Regions from separate parts of the Homo sapiens genome. Here region 1 is linked to region 2. The links come from fine-mapping of genetic effects on gene expression. Tissue or cell type: whole blood. Region 2 holds a variant in brackets; the other region holds the start of a gene. All regions are shown on one strand. Distances are between the middles of the regions.

Evidence for each region. PIP is the estimated chance that this variant, and not a neighbour inherited with it, causes the effect.
Region 1: it holds the start of SLC43A2, and the variant in region 2 is fine-mapped to the expression of SLC43A2 in whole blood (TOPMed, PIP above 0.99).

What each region holds. Positions count from the first base shown.
Region 1 is chr17:1,624,053-1,632,151 of GRCh38, reverse strand. SLC43A2 (solute carrier family 43 member 2) reads left to right here and starts at 3,318. Exons shown (of 14, transcript NM_152346.3): 1 at 3,318-3,358; 2 at 4,232-4,437. The coding sequence starts at 4,278. RefSeq lists enhancers at 4,070-4,607, 4,608-5,145.
Region 2 is chr17:1,570,507-1,578,605 of GRCh38, reverse strand. SLC43A2 (solute carrier family 43 member 2) reads left to right here. Exons shown (of 14, transcript NM_152346.3): 12 at 283-356; 13 at 1,886-2,009; 14 at 2,841-8,099. The coding sequence ends at 3,002. Among named protein-coding and RNA genes, the nearest start is that of PITPNA, 12 kb to the right of the region's middle. RefSeq lists enhancers at 1-653, 654-1,465, 1,466-2,277, 2,278-3,090, 6,346-7,181. The variant G/A (reference allele first, on the strand shown) is at 3,669.

The sequences.
Region 1 (8,099 bases), 54 kb before region 2:
CAAAGTGCTGGGATTCCAGGTGTGAGCCACCGCACCTGGCCATTTGCCCCTTTTCAGGAGTTCATGTTTTCATTCCACAAACTCATATTGTGCAACTGCTTTGTGCTTGCTTCTCTATCAAGGGCTGGTCATACAAAGTTGAATAAGACACCGTCCTGCCCCCAAAGAGTTCATAGTCAATTAGAGAGGAAGGCAAACAGACGAATAGCTAATTATAAAACAATGCCAGCAGTGGACAAATAAAGTGAACAGTATTAATGGGGAGTGGTTAGGGAAGGCTTCCCAGCGGAGGTGCCGTCCAAAATGAGGCTATGTCGCGAGCTAGAGGAGAGAGAACAGCAGGTGCAGAAACCACAGGCAATTCCATGTGACTGGAGCATCGGGGACCAGGCAGGTCAGATGTCCTTCAGAGGGAGGGAGAGGGAGGAGCCTGTGTGGGTCAAATTGGGGAACTGGAACTTTTAAATTTTGTTTATTTTTTTGAGACGGAGTCTCGCTTTGTTGCCCAGGCTGGAGTACAGTGGCACAATCTCTGCTCACCGCAACCTCTGCCTCCCCAGCTCAAGCAATTCTCCTGCCTCAGCCTCCCAGGTAGCTGGGATTACAGGCGTGTGCCACATCACCCAGATCTTTTTTTTTTTTTTTCTTTTCAGACAAAGTTTCGCTCTTGTTGCCCAGGCTGGAGTGCAGTGGCACGATCTCGGCTCACTTCAACTTCCGCCTCCCAGGTTCAAGTGATTCTCCTGCCTCAGCCTCCAGAGTAGCCGGGATTACAGGTGTGCGCCACCACACCCAGCTAATTTTTTGTTTCTTTAGTAGAGACAGGGTTTCACCATCTTGGCCAGACTGGTATCGTACTCCTGATCTTGTGATCTGCCCACCTCGGCCTCCCAAAGTGCTGGGATTACAGGCGTGAGCCACCGCGCCCAGCCATTTTTGTATTTTTAGTAGAGACAGGGTTTCACCATGTTGGCCAGGCTGGTCTTTAACTCCTGACCTCAAGTGATCTGCCCGCCTCAGCCTCCCGAAGTGCTGGTATTACAGGTGTGAGCCACCGTGCCCAGCCAGGAACTGGAACTTTATCCTGTTTTACAAATAATAGTTTCTGAAGGATTTTGGCAGAAGTCACATTTACATTTCCCTTAGTGCCCTGGGATGAGATGGGGGCTGGATTTGAGGAACTGAAATCTGAAGGTGGCTCAACAACAGTAGTTGCGGGCCTAAGGGCACAGATGGACCGATTAGGTAAATATGTAGGAGATACAGCTGTATCAGTTTGATGGGGATGCGGTGAGGGAGAGGCAGAATCACAGCGACTGCCTAACAAATGTCTGATGAAAGGATGGTTCTCAGCAGGGCACTGTGAGTCATGCCTGTAATCCCTGCACTTTGGGAGGCTGAGGTGGGAGGATCACTTGAGCCCAAGACTTCAAGACCAGCCTGGGCAACAGGGCAAGACCCTATCTGTACAAAAAATACAAAAATTAGCCAAGTGTGGTAGCATGCACCTGTGGTCCCAGCTACTTGGGAGGCTGAGGCAGGAGGATCACCTAAGCCCAGGAGGTCGAGGCTGCAGTGAGCTATGATCATGCCACCACACTCCAGCAGTCTGGGTGCCTGAGATCCTGTCTCAAAAAAAAAAAAAAAAAAAGAAAAAGAAAAAAGACAGGGTTCTTGGTATCTAACTTCAGTAGACAGTAGTAGTATGGTTATCTGAGAGAAAATGTGGAGGACAGTTCTGGGGGATATTTGAGGCATGTTTGAGCCCTGCAGCGCCGTCAGGCTGCTCAAAGAGGAGGGAAGGGTGAAGAAAGAGATTTTTCAGATGGCAGTTGAAACCTTGGGAGTGGGAAGGGTTCCACAGGGTGAGGAACCGGGTAGGCTACCAGCTGGAGCCGCCCCCCAGCAGGCTGACAGCTCCAAGCGTTGTCTGGGGGAGGTTGCCCTCGCCAGGTGGCCCGGGCGGATTCTAGACAGTAGGGGGCACACTCGGACTGGGGCAGGTGGAGCAAGAGGCGTTTGGGGCTCCCACAGCCCTGGGGTGGTGGTGGGGTTTTATTTTTGGTTTTTATTTTGGTAGAGATGGTTCTCGCCATGCTGCCCAGGCTGGTCTCAAACTCCTGTCCCCAAGTGGCCCTCCGACCTTAGCCTCCCAAACCGCTGGGATTCCAGACGTGGACACCGCGCGGCAGCCCTGGGGTGCTAAGCCAGCCCCCCGGAGCGAGCCAGGGTGACCAAGGCGATTCTGGGGCAGTCAGAGGGTCTTCCCGGGTCGGGTTAGTGCCTCGAATCCGGGGGACGAAGACGGGGAGCTGAGCTTTCGGAGCCCGGGCTTATCAGACGGGGACCCGGAGCCCCCTCGAACCCTCCCTAGCTTGTACCAGCTGGCGGACGTGGCCCGTAGCATCGCCCTGCAGAGGGGACCTTCCCTGAAAGGGACGGGGAACGGGGTGAAGGTGGCCAGCGCGGGCAGGGAGCACCCAGATGACGATCAAGGGTGGAGGGTCCCCGGAGGACCGAGCAGTGCGTGAACACGGGCGGAGAAAGGTCAGTCTGATGGGGGGAGCTCAGGAGACCCCATCCTAGGACGGGACAGACCAGCCCCAAATCCCCTTGCAGATTTCCAAGGGCCAACTTCCAGGGACCGGGCAGACGCCACCGGGGAGAGGGGAAGGGGTCGGTGCATCAGCGGGGGGCGCCACGGCTGGACCGGGTCCGGGATCCCAGGCCCCGAATACGCCGGGACGGGAACCACCGGGGCGGGGGAGCGAGGAACCAGGACCCAAAGCCCGAGGCGGCGGGGACGGCGGCGCTGCGTGGGGAGGAGGCGGGGTGGGGATTCGAGAGTGGAACCACCGTGCGGAGCCGGCGCATCTGGGCGTGGTGACCCGCGCGCAGGGGGCAGCTGGGGACGGCGGGGCGGCCGCGGGAGAGCCCGGCTGGGGGCGCTGGTGGCCCGGCGGCTTCTGGGGGGAGTCCGCTGGGGGCCGGGACGCGGAGCCGGAGCCCCAGCCTCGCAGGGTCAGGCCGCTGGAGAGGCCGCGGGGCGATGTCGCCGGGGATTCCCGGCCGCGCTGTGACTCGGGTTGAAGGCTGCAAAGCCGAGGCCCGGCCCGCAGCGCCCAGGCCCCTCCCGTCCCCCATCTCTCTTGTTTGTCTCCGAGTCCGGCCGGAACCGGCTTCTGCTCGCGGCGGGGCGGGCGGGGGGCTGGCTGCTGATTGGTCGACGCCTGTTTCCAGCCCCGCTCAGCCAATCAGCGGGCGGCAGTGTTTTCTTCTTGGGGTCGGAATAAAAGGGCTGGAATAAAAGAGGGCAGAAAAGGCGCCGGGCGGGCCCGACACACGCCGGAGGAGCCGGGTGAGCTGCAGCAGGGAGGGGATCGCGGCCGGGGCGAGGGCGCGGGGGCAGAAGCGGCCGCCGAAGGGGCGTAGGGAGAAAACGTGGGAACGAGGAGAGAGATGGAGCGATGAGGGGCCGCCAGGGAAGAGATGACGAACAGATGCGGGCTGGGGAATGGAGGCGCGGGGGTCCGAGGCCATGGAAACGGGCGAGTTGCCGGGGGAACGCCCGAGATGGGGGTCGCGCGGCTGGCTCGCGCCACCGGTTTGAACCGGCTCCTCGTCTCCCACGCTGGGTTCGCGTGGCCGCAGCGCCTAGCGACCTAGACGGCGGCCAATGGCGCGGCAGTTCCTGCGCCGTCCGGCCAATGAGCGCGCCGGGGCGGGCCGTTCCGTAGGTCTGGGCGCTGATCTTGTGGTTGAAGAAACCAGCTCTGGGGAAGGGTCTCGGGCGCGGGCGGGAGGGCACCTGTCAGGGTCCCTGGGAGAGGCAGCCCTCGGATCTGCCCCTGCCCACCTCACGCTGCGTTCCATGCTGGCCCCAGGCGATGTCAGTCCTGCTGCAGGCCAGGACTAGTTCCACGGCCCTGAGCATGCGTTAGCCCCTTCTTGCCTCCATGCCTCAGTTTACCTCGGAGTGAGCTGCGGGAGACGTCTCCCTGCCTGGCCGGGGCGGCTCTGTCGTAGCGGAGGGCAGCGGTACGAGCCGGCCGCGGGCTCGGGGTGTCCCAGGTCCGGGCAGGGCTGGGGTTCGCTTCCTCTGCTGCGCGCACCGGCCGCCGCGGCCGGGGAGGGGTGGCAATCCCGAGCCCTGCGGCAGCGGTCGGGGCTGCTGGGGGCGGCCGCAGGGGCTGGGCAAGGGCCGGCCGCTGACGCCGAGTTCTGTGCGCAGGTGGTGCAGAGCCGGAGCCGGAGCCGGAGCCGCGCCGCGCCGCACCATGGCGCCCACCCTGGCCACTGCCCATCGGCGCCGCTGGTGGATGGCCTGCACGGCCGTGCTGGAGAACCTCCTCTTCTCGGCAGTCCTCCTGGGCTGGGGCTCGCTGCTCATCATGCTCAAGTCAGAGGGCTTTTACTCCTACCTGTGTACCGAGCCAGGTGAGACAAGCGCCTGGGGTTGCGGGGGGCTCCTGGAGCTGGGGCTTTGGGAGGGGGCGGGATGGGGGCGAAGACCTAGCGAGCCACAGCACCGCATTGCCCAGTGCCTCTAGGGTATCAGAAGGCCCATCTGATCCTCACCCAGCCCTGCCGGGTACTTGTCATTGCCCCTGTTTTGTGGACGAAGACATCGAGGCTCAGAGCGATCTGTCTTGCGCAAGGCCGCAGAGCCTGGGCCTGCCATCCACCCAGAACCCCACCTGCTGTCCAGGGTGTTCCTTCCACCCGCTACGAACAGTGCTGGACTGCTCTCCTCTCCTCCCAGCCCTGGAACATAGCTTGGCTGGTAGTAAACATGTTGCTGTCTGCTTGTGAGAAAGAGGAACTCCAGATTAAGGGGCTGGGGTGCAGCAGGAGAGGAAGTGGCCTTGCCTCCACCCCAGGGAGGGCTCATCTAGAATCTAGACGTTCCTCAGGCCATTGTGGAGTCTCCTAAGTGCTTGCTGGACACAATTTCTTGTCTATTTTTGCTGCCTTATGATTCTCCAAAGGACATTTCCCCCACGGGCTCTGAGGACATCTCCGTGGCTTTCCAACCCCATGGGGATGAAGGGGAAGAGAAGAAAGGAACGTTTATGGAAATGATGCTAGGGTTGTTCTCTCCTCTTTGCCTTGTCACTGGAATTGCTGAAGGCAGGCTGAGGATGCTTCTCTACATGACATCTGCACCACCCAACACACACTTACCTTCACACCTTCATACCCTGTTGGAGGGTCCTGATGACTACAGGGCAGTAAATTCAGCCCCACAGGAGGGCCACAGCAGCCCCCAGCCTCTAGCCTCCTACCCTCCTTCTTAGGCAACCTTGACAGGAAATTTTCCCTCTGCCTTCTCCTTGATCCCAACGGTAGCTGCATAATAGCTGAGCTCACATAATCCCTGTCGCCAGTGCTAGAGTGCCCTTAGATGGAGGTAGCCCAGGTTTGACTTCCTGAATCCCCAGCAGCAGGCCTTTTCTTTCTAGAGCTCTTTGCAGGAAGAGAAAGCTTTGGACCAGCTCATGCTGGGTGTAATCCTTTGTGGAAGCCTCCCTGTTTCCCTTCTCTGATCTGCCCCGGAGATTCCTGTGTGTCCCAGTCTCTAGGGAGGGAGGCTTAGCTGGAGAGGTTCAGGGCAGGAGAAAGCAGGAGAATGCAGAGGCCGCGGGGAGAGGACAGAAAGTATATCATTTATAACTAACCTTTAGCCTTTAGCCACTCAAAAATATTTCCTAATAGCCTAAGGGTTCTTGGCAGGTCTTTCCCCACATCAGCAAGAAATCTTGGGAGTTGGGAAGAGTCAGACCTTGTTCCCTGAACAAGCTTTCTGCTTTGGCCAAGAGTTGTTAGGAGATTAATGCCTGTCCCCGAAAGGCACAGGTTGGAGTGTTTACTTCTTCCTCTCCTTTCCTCTCTCCCCCCTTAGAGATCGTGACCCTTCCTGCTTGCCTCCCTGGTGGGCTCTTTCAGGCTGGACACAGGGTTTAAAAAAAAAAAAAAAAAGCAGAAAAAAAGTCATCGTCCCCAGAGAAAGCTTTTAGTGTCTCACCCAGACCAGAGAACTGTTGTGGGCAGGTGTTTTTTTGTGTGTTTTTTTTTTAACCCACCATGATGTCGGAAGGTCAGATTCTAGGTGTTTTTTGTTTGTTTTTTGTTTTTTGTTTTTTTTTAATAGAATGTCCACGGATTTAATTGATTGTATGGTTTTGGCAGAATTGGGTCTGGTCCTTTCATTCCTGCCTCAACCTCAGCTTCCTCCTCTGTCTAAGTGGGAGGAGTCCCAGAGATTGTGCCAGCGCAGTGCTGAGTTGGTGTTTTAAGCCCTGGGCAGACTTGACAGGTAACTCCACTAAACCAAAGTGAAGGTGAAGGGTCAGGATTGTGGGTTGAACATCAACTTCTTATCCCGAACTTTTGCTCCTGCCTCCAATTTTGGTTTTTCTTATTATCTGGCAAACATGCTGAGCCCACGTTCTGGGCGGGAAGGCTGCTGATTCCACACAGCTTATCTCTCTGGTCACACTGCTCCTTGATTCTTGGAGTCTGCATCACCAGTTTTCTTTCAGGCCAGAAATCCCCGCATTTGGCTCGTCTGGGAGTGCCTGGCGAAGTTAGGGTGAAGGTTTCTGCTTCAGTCTAACATTTTCAAACTTGGTGCATGGCTGAATTGCAGAGAAGCAGATAGGCCATTTTTGAATTTATTGAATTAGACTTGTGAAAGCCTGAGCAGTGTCCGGCTGATTGAGATGCAAATTTGTCAGCTTCGTGTCACTCTAGGACGATGCTTTAGTTTGTTCTCTAAAGAAAATTTGCCTGAACCTGTTGAAAGGTTCTTAGAACTCTTTCTTACGACTCCAGCCAGAATCTCGCCACAGACACCGTGTTGGGTTCCAGCCTGGTGAGGTGGCAGAAGGAAGGAAACAGCTCATTTCTCGGCTGCCCCGCAGTTTGTTCTTCCTTGCCTGCTGGGAGACGTGGCAGGCTGGGTTTGGGGACCTGGGTGCGGGAAGTTGGCAATGGGTTTTGCACAACGTCCTCCAGGTGTTGGCTGCTGGATGCCTCCCTCGTCCCCCTGGTGAGGGCAGGAGACCAGTTGGGTTCTCAGCCCGAGAAGCACGGGGCTTCCTGGAGCTGTGTCCTCTTGGCCTCTGGGATGGCAACGTGACGGCCCACTCCTGAGCTCTTTCTTCGTTTTCTCTGTTGTCCAGTGGCCCCCGCTTCAACAGGGTCAGGGTCAGCCTGGGGGGCTGCGGCTACCTGTGGATGGTTTTTTTTTATTTGAGACAGGGTCTCGCTCTGTTGCCCAGTCTGGAATGTAGTGTTGCAATCACAGCTCACTGCGGCCTTGACTCCTGGGCTCAAGCAATCCTCCCGCCTCAGCCTCCCGAGTAGCAGTAGCTGGGACTACAAGTGTGCGCCACCATACTCAGCTAATTTTTGTATTTTTTGTAGAGACAGGGTCTCGCCATGTTGCCTAGGCTGGTCTCAAACTCCTGGGCTCAAGCGATCCTCCTGCCTCAGCCTTCCAAAGTGCTGGGCCTGCAAGCATGAGCCATCAAACCCAGTTAGTTTTTTGTTTTTGTTTTTGGGATTACAGGTGCCCACCACCACGCCCGGCTAATTTTTGTATTTTTTAGTAGAGATGTGGTTTTACCATGTTGGCCTGGCTGGTCTCGAACTCCTGACCTCAGGTGATCCACCCGCCTTGGCCTCCCAAAGCACTGGGATTACAGGTGTGAGCCACCACGCCCGGTCAAATTTTTTGTAGAGATGAGGGTTTCATCACGTTGCTCAGGCTGGTCTCAAAACTCCTGGGCTCAAGTGATCCACCAGCCTCAGCCTCCCAAAGTGCTGGGACTACAGGTGTAAGCCACCATACCCAGTTAATTTTTAAATGTTTTGTAGAGATAGGGGTTTCACCATGTTGCCCAGGCTGGTCTTGAACTCCTGGGCTCAGTCGATCCACCCACCTCGGGCTCCCACATTGCTGGGATTATAGGCGTGAGCCACCGCTCCAGGCCTACATGTGGATCGTTAATCCCCTCTTTCTTGTAACCTAAACATTCAGTAAACATTGACGAAGGTGCCGTGCTGGGTGCAGAGGAAACAAGTCATCACACGCA
Region 2 (8,099 bases):
CAGTGAGCCAAGATCACGCCACTGCACTCCAGCCTGGGCGACAAAGCAAGACTTCTTCTCAAACAAAACAAAAAACAAAACAAACAAACAAACAAAAAATGACTGTGTTAACGACTGGCTTGCAAAATTTCTGAAAATTCACAATTGGCTCCGGAGGATGGGGTTGATCCAACTCCAGGCTGACACTGCCCCTGGGGTGAGGGCCCCCAGGAATTGGAGGGCGGGGGCTGAGGGGACGGTCCCTTAAGGCCTTATGCCCACAGTCGCCTTTTCCTCCCCCAGATCCTCTCCTTCATCCTGCACACAATCGTGCGAGGATTCATCCACTCCGCTGTCGGGGGCCTGTACGCTGCCGTGTAAGTCCTGGAAGCCGCAGGTGGCCTGGTGGGCGAGGGTGTGGGAATGGCCGGGGGGAGGTTGCTGGTGGGACTGAGACTCTGAGGCAGGGTCAGCCTGTCCCAGAAGGGCTCATCTTCCTGCTTCAGGGGACAGGTACCAGGGTTTCTGCTGGGTGTTTCAGGGAAAGGCCATACCTCGTGGGAAGCAGGTCAGTGGGCAGACAGTTGGGTGCTCACAAGCCTTGGCATTCAACACGAAGTCAGTTCCCCCAGCCAGGGTCAGGCACCTGTGCAGCTCATTATGGCCTCAGGGGCCACTACAGCCGAGTCCTGGGGCTGGCCCTGGCTGCTCACTGGGAAGGATGGGTAGGTTCTGGCTGCCTGAAGCTAAATGCGGAAGTTCCAGTTGCCCTCATCACGGGCAGCAACATGGGTGACTGAGTCCAGAATACACCAGACGGGCCCATCCAGAGCCTCAGTGCGCCCAGCTCTGGCCATAGCTTTCTCCAGCCCTGGCTAAAATGAAACCTGTATCTTTTTCCAAGAAGCCCCAGAAACATAAAAGGAACCACAGTGGTTCCTTCTTCTCTGGCTCAGGCCTTGACCCAAAAACTGAAACTCAAACATCATCATCCACAGTCTCTGATGTGGGACCAGCTCATGTGTTGCTGGGATTCCTTTCCCACCTCTGGGCCAGCAGAGCCTGACATGTGCTAAGATTTAGCCCGGAACTCTCTCCCAATTCCCGCAACAGCCCCTGGGGTAATCCCAGCTCCGCTTGCCCTCCGCCTGCCCCTCCCCAGGCCTGGAGGAAGCTGTGGCTGTCCTGGCAGGGTCTGAGGGAGGGGGGCGGGATCTGTGGTGCTGAGTTTCCGCGATTACTCAATGCTTCTCTGGACGAGGGCACTGCAGAGCCAAGCCCAGCCTCCACACTCCTCTCTGGGCCTGTTTCCCAAACCGCAGGTCCCCGCTGGCACCACGCTTTCCACTCGGCTCAGCCAGACACCCACAGGCCCTGGGCACAGCTGAGTGGGGTGGGCCCTCCCCAGAGTCTGGGGCCTGGAGCTGGTCCAAAGAGAAACACTTTGCAGAACCACCCAGCAGGGCCGGGCGCGGTGGCTCACGCCTGTAATCCCAGAACTTTGGGAGGCCGAGGCAGGCAGATCACAAGGTCAGGAGTTTGAGACCAGCCTGGCCAACGTAGTGAAACCCCGTCTCTACTAAAAATACAAAAAATTAGCCAGATGTGGTGGCGGGCGCCTGTAATCCCAGCTACTAGGGAGGCTGAGGCAGGAGAATTGTTTGGACTGGGGAGGCGGAGGTTGCAGTGAGCCGAGATCGTGTCATTGCACTCCAGCCCAGGCGACAGTGCAAGACTCCATCTTAAAAAAAAAAAAAAAAAAACAGAACTGCCCAGCAGGAAGGAATCCGAGGGCTGGCACCCCACCCTTCTCTGGCACCAACGGTGCAGCCCGGGGTCACCAGACACCTGGGGCCAAGCAAAGCCCAGGAGGCAGGATGGCTGTGAGCTGTCGCTTGCCCTGCAGGTACCCCTCCACCCAGTTCGGCAGCCTCACGGGACTGCAGTCTCTGATCAGCGCGCTCTTCGCCCTTCTGCAGCAGCCGCTGTTTCTGGCCATGATGGGTCCTCTCCAGGGAGACCCTCTGTGGGTAAGAGGGGTCGGGGGATGGTGGGTCATGGGCGCCTGCCCCCTTCTGCTAACTGCGAGCTGCAAGGTCCCCCTCGGGGGCTTCAGGGCCCCGAGGACATGTGGGAGCGTTGGTTAGGATTGGTTAAGAGTCCCTTTGTGAATGGTGGCTAGGCAGGAAAAGGAACATGTCCTCTCTGGACCTGATTTGGGGAGAAATAGAACAGAGTTCCTGGGCCGGGCGCGGTGGCTCACACCTGTAATCCCAGCACTTTGAGAGGCCGAGGCGGGAGCATCACTTGAGGTCAGGAGTTCAAGACCAGCCTGGCCAACATGGTGAAACCAGGTCTCTACTAAAAATACAAAAATTAGCCAGGTGTGGTGGCAGGTGCCTGTAATCCCAGATACTCGGGAGGCTGAGACAGGAGAATCACTTGAACCCGGGAGGCGGAGATTGCAGTGAGCTGAGATTGCGCCACTGCACTCCAGCCTGAATGACGACAGCGCGAGACTTCGTCTCAAAAAAAAAAAAAAAAAAAAAAAAAGAACACAGTTCCTGTCCCCGCCCCACCTCCGAGGGCCAGATTTCCTCACCAGGTACCAGGAACTTGTTCCAAGCCCAGAGGTTCAGATCAGCCCGTGTTTCCTGGGGGCCCAGGCCCTGAGGGTGGCCACATGGCCTGTGAAGAGTTGGGAACCGGGACGCTGGCATATGGGACCTCGTGGGCCTTCCTGTTTCGTTCCCCCTTCCACCCCGTGACCTTCTCCCCTTTCCCAAACCCGAGTGGAGGGCGGGTCTGCAGCCTCGGCGCACCACCACGCCCTGTGATGCGCGGCCTCCCTGCCTCCCCAGGTGAACGTGGGGCTGCTCCTTCTCAGCCTGCTGGGCTTCTGCCTCCCGCTCTACCTGATCTGCTACCGGCGCCAGCTGGAGCGGCAGCTGCAGCAGAGGCAGGAGGATGACAAACTCTTCCTCAAAATCAACGGCTCGTCCAACCAGGAGGCCTTCGTGTAGTGGCTGCCGCCTCGGAACTGCGGTCTCCTGCCTGTGCTTCAGTGACTGACCCCTGTCCTGCCCCTCCAGAGTACCCCACGCACCCCCAGGACCTTCGCCGTCTCCGTGCCAGCGTTCACGCTCCCTCCCGGGGCCCTGCCTCGGAGCTCTGTGGTGGAAGGACGGGAGAGGGCCCCGGACACGCGCGTTTTCTCCTGCCGAACGCAGGGGCTGCCCTGACTTTGCTCTGCCGCCCCCCGGGGACCCGGGGCCTGGGGTCTCTGTGGTGCCTGCAGCAGGAGCCAGGAACGCCCGGCAGGCAGGCGCTCTCCCGCCAGTGTCTGGATTCTGCCTCTTGCCAAAGCAGAGGGGGCTGCCATCCCCTGCCTGCCACCTGCCCCTCGGCTGCATGCCCACAGCCGTACCTGCCTGAGGACAAAGGCTTGCACTGTCTCGCCCGCGCCTGGCCCCCACCCCCTCCCCGGCCAGCCTGAGGCTGCCTGAGGAAGGAAGGACCCGCTTCCTGTTGTCGGTGCTAATTCCTTTGTAATTCCAGCCCCCTGTCGCCTGTCCAGGGCCTGCCCACCCGTTGGAGGCCGGTGGAGAAGCCCCACCTGGCTTATGCCCTGGAGAGGGTTTAGCGGGCTGGGTGGACCCCTCGCCTCCTCCCCGAGGGCCAATGCCGCG[G/A]ACACGTTTTCACTGTCACCCTCGTTCTGTCTGCCACCTGAAGGGAATTTGAGGACCGCCGCCAGGGCACCCCGTACATACACACAGCTGCTTTTGTGGAGGTGGACGAAAGGCTGTGGCCGGCAGACGTGGAGGTCCAGGCCGGGGTGGGGACGTGGGTGGGTCCGAGGTGTGTGTGGGGTCGGGGTGGGCTCTAGGAGTTAGCCCTTATCCCCACTGACCAGGCGGGAGCCGCCAGGCCTGCAGCTGGGCCAGTGCCCAGGAGCCATCCTGGCGTGGGGCCAGGAGCTTGTCCAAGGCCACAGGCCCACAGCACCCCCTGCCGGCGGGCTCCGTGGGGCCCTGGAGCTGATGACGGGGGAGGCCCGTCCGCCTGGCCCACCAACCCGCCCACCTTGACTGCCCCCAGAAGTGTGTCTTGAGACCTCCTGGGCGTGCTTAGAGGGGTGAGTTGTGTTTGGATTTTTAGTTATTTTCTCTTCAGTTTTATTAGACTTCTTTTTTATAAAGCAATAAATCCATTTTCCTCCGGGTAAGGGATGCCCCTTCTGGCATATCAGTTAATAGCTGCATGTGCCTATTTTGAGCTTGAGAAGAAAAGGCAGGACAAGATTCTCTGCCACCGACCAGCTCCAGCCGTGCCCAGCTGCTCTTCGTCTCTCTGGGGGACTGCTGACTCGGGAGGGACAGTGGGCCAGGAAAAGACCTTCCTCCCCAACCCCCAAACAAACTGGGCTTGTGCAGACATCTTAGAAGTGTGAGCCACCCTCCTCTACCGATTTTCCCAGCCAAACAGGCGAATCCTGGTCCCTTTCCATCCCTACACCCTTCCACAACCCTGAAGATTCCCGCTGGGTTCTTCTGCAGGCTCAGAGCAGTTCAGGATGTGGGCGGCAGGGAGGGGGATGAAAGGAGAAGAGGAAAGGGCAGGTCCAGGCCACATTCAAGCTCCACATTAACAGCTTGGGCGCCTGGAACACATATCTCCTAGGCTTTATTTCACTCAAATATTTAAAAAAAGACTGGGCGTGGTGGCTCACGCCTATAATCCCAGCACTTTGGGAGGCCAAGGCAGGAGGCTCACCTGAGGTCAGGAGTTCGAGACCATCCTGACCAACATGGAGAAACCCCGTCTGTACTAAAAATAAACATTAATCGGGCGTGGTGGCGTGCGCCTGTAATCCCAACTACTCGGGAGCCTGAGGCAGGAGAATCGCTTGAACCGGGGAGACGGAGATTGCCGTGAGTCGAGATCGCACCATTGCACTCCAGCCTGGGCAACAGAGCGAGGCTCCGTCTCAAAAAGAAAAAAAAAAAGAGAACGAGATAAACATGCCCACTCCTGAGAACACTCGTTTTGTGATGTTAGTGGTTATTCTGATTTTCAAGAAAGTATTATAGTCAAGTTTGGGAAAGGCTGAGTTAAAAGTCAAGCCTGTTTCCTTACAGCCAGCACTGACAGCACTTTGCCAACGCTCATGAGCTCCGTGGCTCCTCAGGAGCGGGTGTGCTGTGCTGCCGAGGAACGGCTCGAACCATCAGAGCCACCAGCCTCCACGTGCGGCTCCATGATCACCCCCAGCAGAGGCTCCCGGGTGCTGGTTCCAAATGGAGACTCCAGGTCTTGCCGCTGACCGGTGACTCTGCTGCCAGCATTTGAGACCCGCCATCACACAGGAGTTGCAGATTCGGAGAAACCCTAACTAGCCAGGGTGCTGCCAGCTGGGAAAAGGCCGCCTTTTTTTTTTTTTTTTTTTTTTTGAGTTGGGGTCTTGCTCTGCCATCCAGGCTGGAGTGCAGTGGTGCAACTGATAGCTCACCACGGCCTCCAACTCATGGGCTCAAGGGATCCTCCCACCTCGGCCTCCTAAGTATCTGGGACTATAAGTGTGTGCCACCATGCCTGGCTAATTTTTTTTTTCTTTTTCATAAAGATGAATTCTTGCTATTTTGCCCAGGCTGGTCTGGAACTCCTGGGCTGAAGCAATTCTCCCACCTCAGCCTCCCAAAGTGCTGAGATTACAGGCGTGAGTCACAATGCCTAGCCAAAAAGCCAGTCTTGAGATGGGGAAGACGTGGCCCGTGCTGTCCCCAGCAGTGCCCAGTCCCAGCCAAAGTGGGCAGTGCTGCCTCACTCTCCCACCCACCCTCAGGGTGTGGCACTTACTGGGAAGAAGCAGGCATTGAGAAACAGAATTGAGGGGGGGAAACAGTCCAGGGCCAACAGTGCTTGGGGATTGAGGCCTGAAAATGCGAGCAGGGTACAGAGGCTGTGGCTGGCCAGATGGGTCGGGTGCCCCCTGCACTCCCACCCCCTAGTCAGGGGTCACCCATCCTACTTTGCCTTGTGTGGAGCTGACAGGTGACATGTTTTCCTATTGTTGTCCTTGACTTGATAACAATCTGGGAGTTAAACACATATGATCATCCCTGCTTTACAACTGAAAAACGAGGCCTAGAGATACTATCATCATATACACCTGAAAAACGAGGCCTGGAGCGATGGAGGAGCTTGTTCAAGGTCAGAGCCAGCACTCATATATGGGTCTTAAGACACTGGAGCAGCCAAGGGCCTCTAGACCAGGACATTCCACTCGGAGCAGCAGCTCAGGGGCCACCAGGCCTCTGTGGCAGGGGGACCTCTGTGGCAGGGGGGACCTCTGTGGCGGGGGGGGGGCCTCTGTGGCAGGGGGGTCACAGCCCAAGGAAGGGGAGCAGGCCCAGGCATGGTTTCCGTTTCTGGGAGCCAAGAGCCTTCTCAGAAGAGGGGGAGAGAGCTACTGCATGGAATCATTTGGGCCCTGGAGGCTGATGGGTACTTGGGGGAGCAATCCCTGGTGACCCCAACCAGCAAGACAAGTGCCCTGTGAAGGGGAAGGGACTACAGCTGATCAAAGGAGCAGGCACCAGTGGCCGGGCCTCCCGTCTGCCCCTCATCCTCCAGGCTCTGGCGGGAAGGAGCAGGAAGGGCTCCCTGCCCTTGGGGTTTTGATCAGTGAGGAGGGGGGCTTGGGTCTGAGTCTGGGTCTGGGTCTGCTGCCGAAACACTGCCCCCAGTCCCTCTCCTCACTAGACTCTGGGGTCTAGGCGTGTCTTTGTGGTCGGCCTTCTCCAAACCCTCTAGGCCTCTGTCTGCAGCTGCTGCTGCCTGGACCTATACACAAGGTCCCACCCCTCACCGGGGCCAAAGACGTGGTTGCAGGCCCTGGTGGATCCTTTCTGTTTTGCTCCATCCCCGTCCCCTCTTGCACCCAGCATCGTCCTGGTCAGAACTTCCGTTTAAACCTTCCTTGCCTGCCGTGCACTCCGAGGGGGGCGTCACTTTGCCATAGGCCCCAGGGCTGAAAATGGCGGGACATCCAGTATTGGGCTCACGTGCATAAGACTGTCCCAGACAGCAGCACAATCACGTTCAGCCAAGTGGAGTTTCCGACGCACTTGTGTGGCAGCCGCGTGAATGTGAGCCGATATGCAGCTGGGAGGGGTTGTGGGCCTCCTGCGGTGAGGGGCTCCTGCCAGGAGCTCTGAGAAGCCTCCACAGAATCAGCCGTCGGGCTCCTTCAGCAGCAGCTCCCCTTATCTGTGCCAACGACTGGGGGCCTAACTCAAGGGTGCCAGCCCGTCTTCCGCCAATACAGACTGTGGGATTCTGAGAGTTAGGAGCCTGGGGTCCCCTGGGGTGGGGTGGTCAGGGTGAGCAGGTGGGCTCTGTGAGCCTGTTTCCCCATGCCCTGACTCACCCCAATCCCTGGGTGAGGACAGAGCTCCTGAAGGCCACTGAAGGAGGTGCAGCACACTCCACCTGGGTGGCCTTCCGCAGCTCAGCCCTCTTCCTGCCAGCAGGAAGCCTCTGCCTGTGCTCCTTAAGTTAGCCATCCTCACCCCCTCCGGGCAGCTCTGAGACTGAGCCAGGGCCACTAGCAGCACCCAGACCTCGACCCTTCTCAGACCGAGGCGCCACCACCCCAGGCCGAGGAGGCAAGGAGGGAAGACCAAAGTCTAGAGGACTGTCTTGGTGGCCCTGGGCGAGTCTTGAACTTTGGTGCCATCATCTGCAAAAGGGAGGAAAGAATGCCTGCGTGGTGCAGCTACGTGGATACGCAGTGAAGACCCGCATGGTGGGACGCCTGGCACTTAACAATGGTAGCATTTGGCCGGGCGCGGTGGCTCACGCCTGTAATCCCAGCACTTTGGGAGGCCGAGGCGGGCGGATCACGAGGTCAGGAGATCAAGACCATCCCGGCTAAAACGGTGAAACCCCGTCTCTACTAAAAATACAAAAAATTAGCCGGGCGTAGTGGCGGGCGCCTGTAGTCCCAGCTACTTGGGAGGCTGAGGCAGGAGAATGGTGTGAACCCGGGAGGCGGAGCTTGCAGTGAGCCGAGATCCCGCCACTGCACTCCAGCCTGGGCGACAGAGCGAGACTCCGTC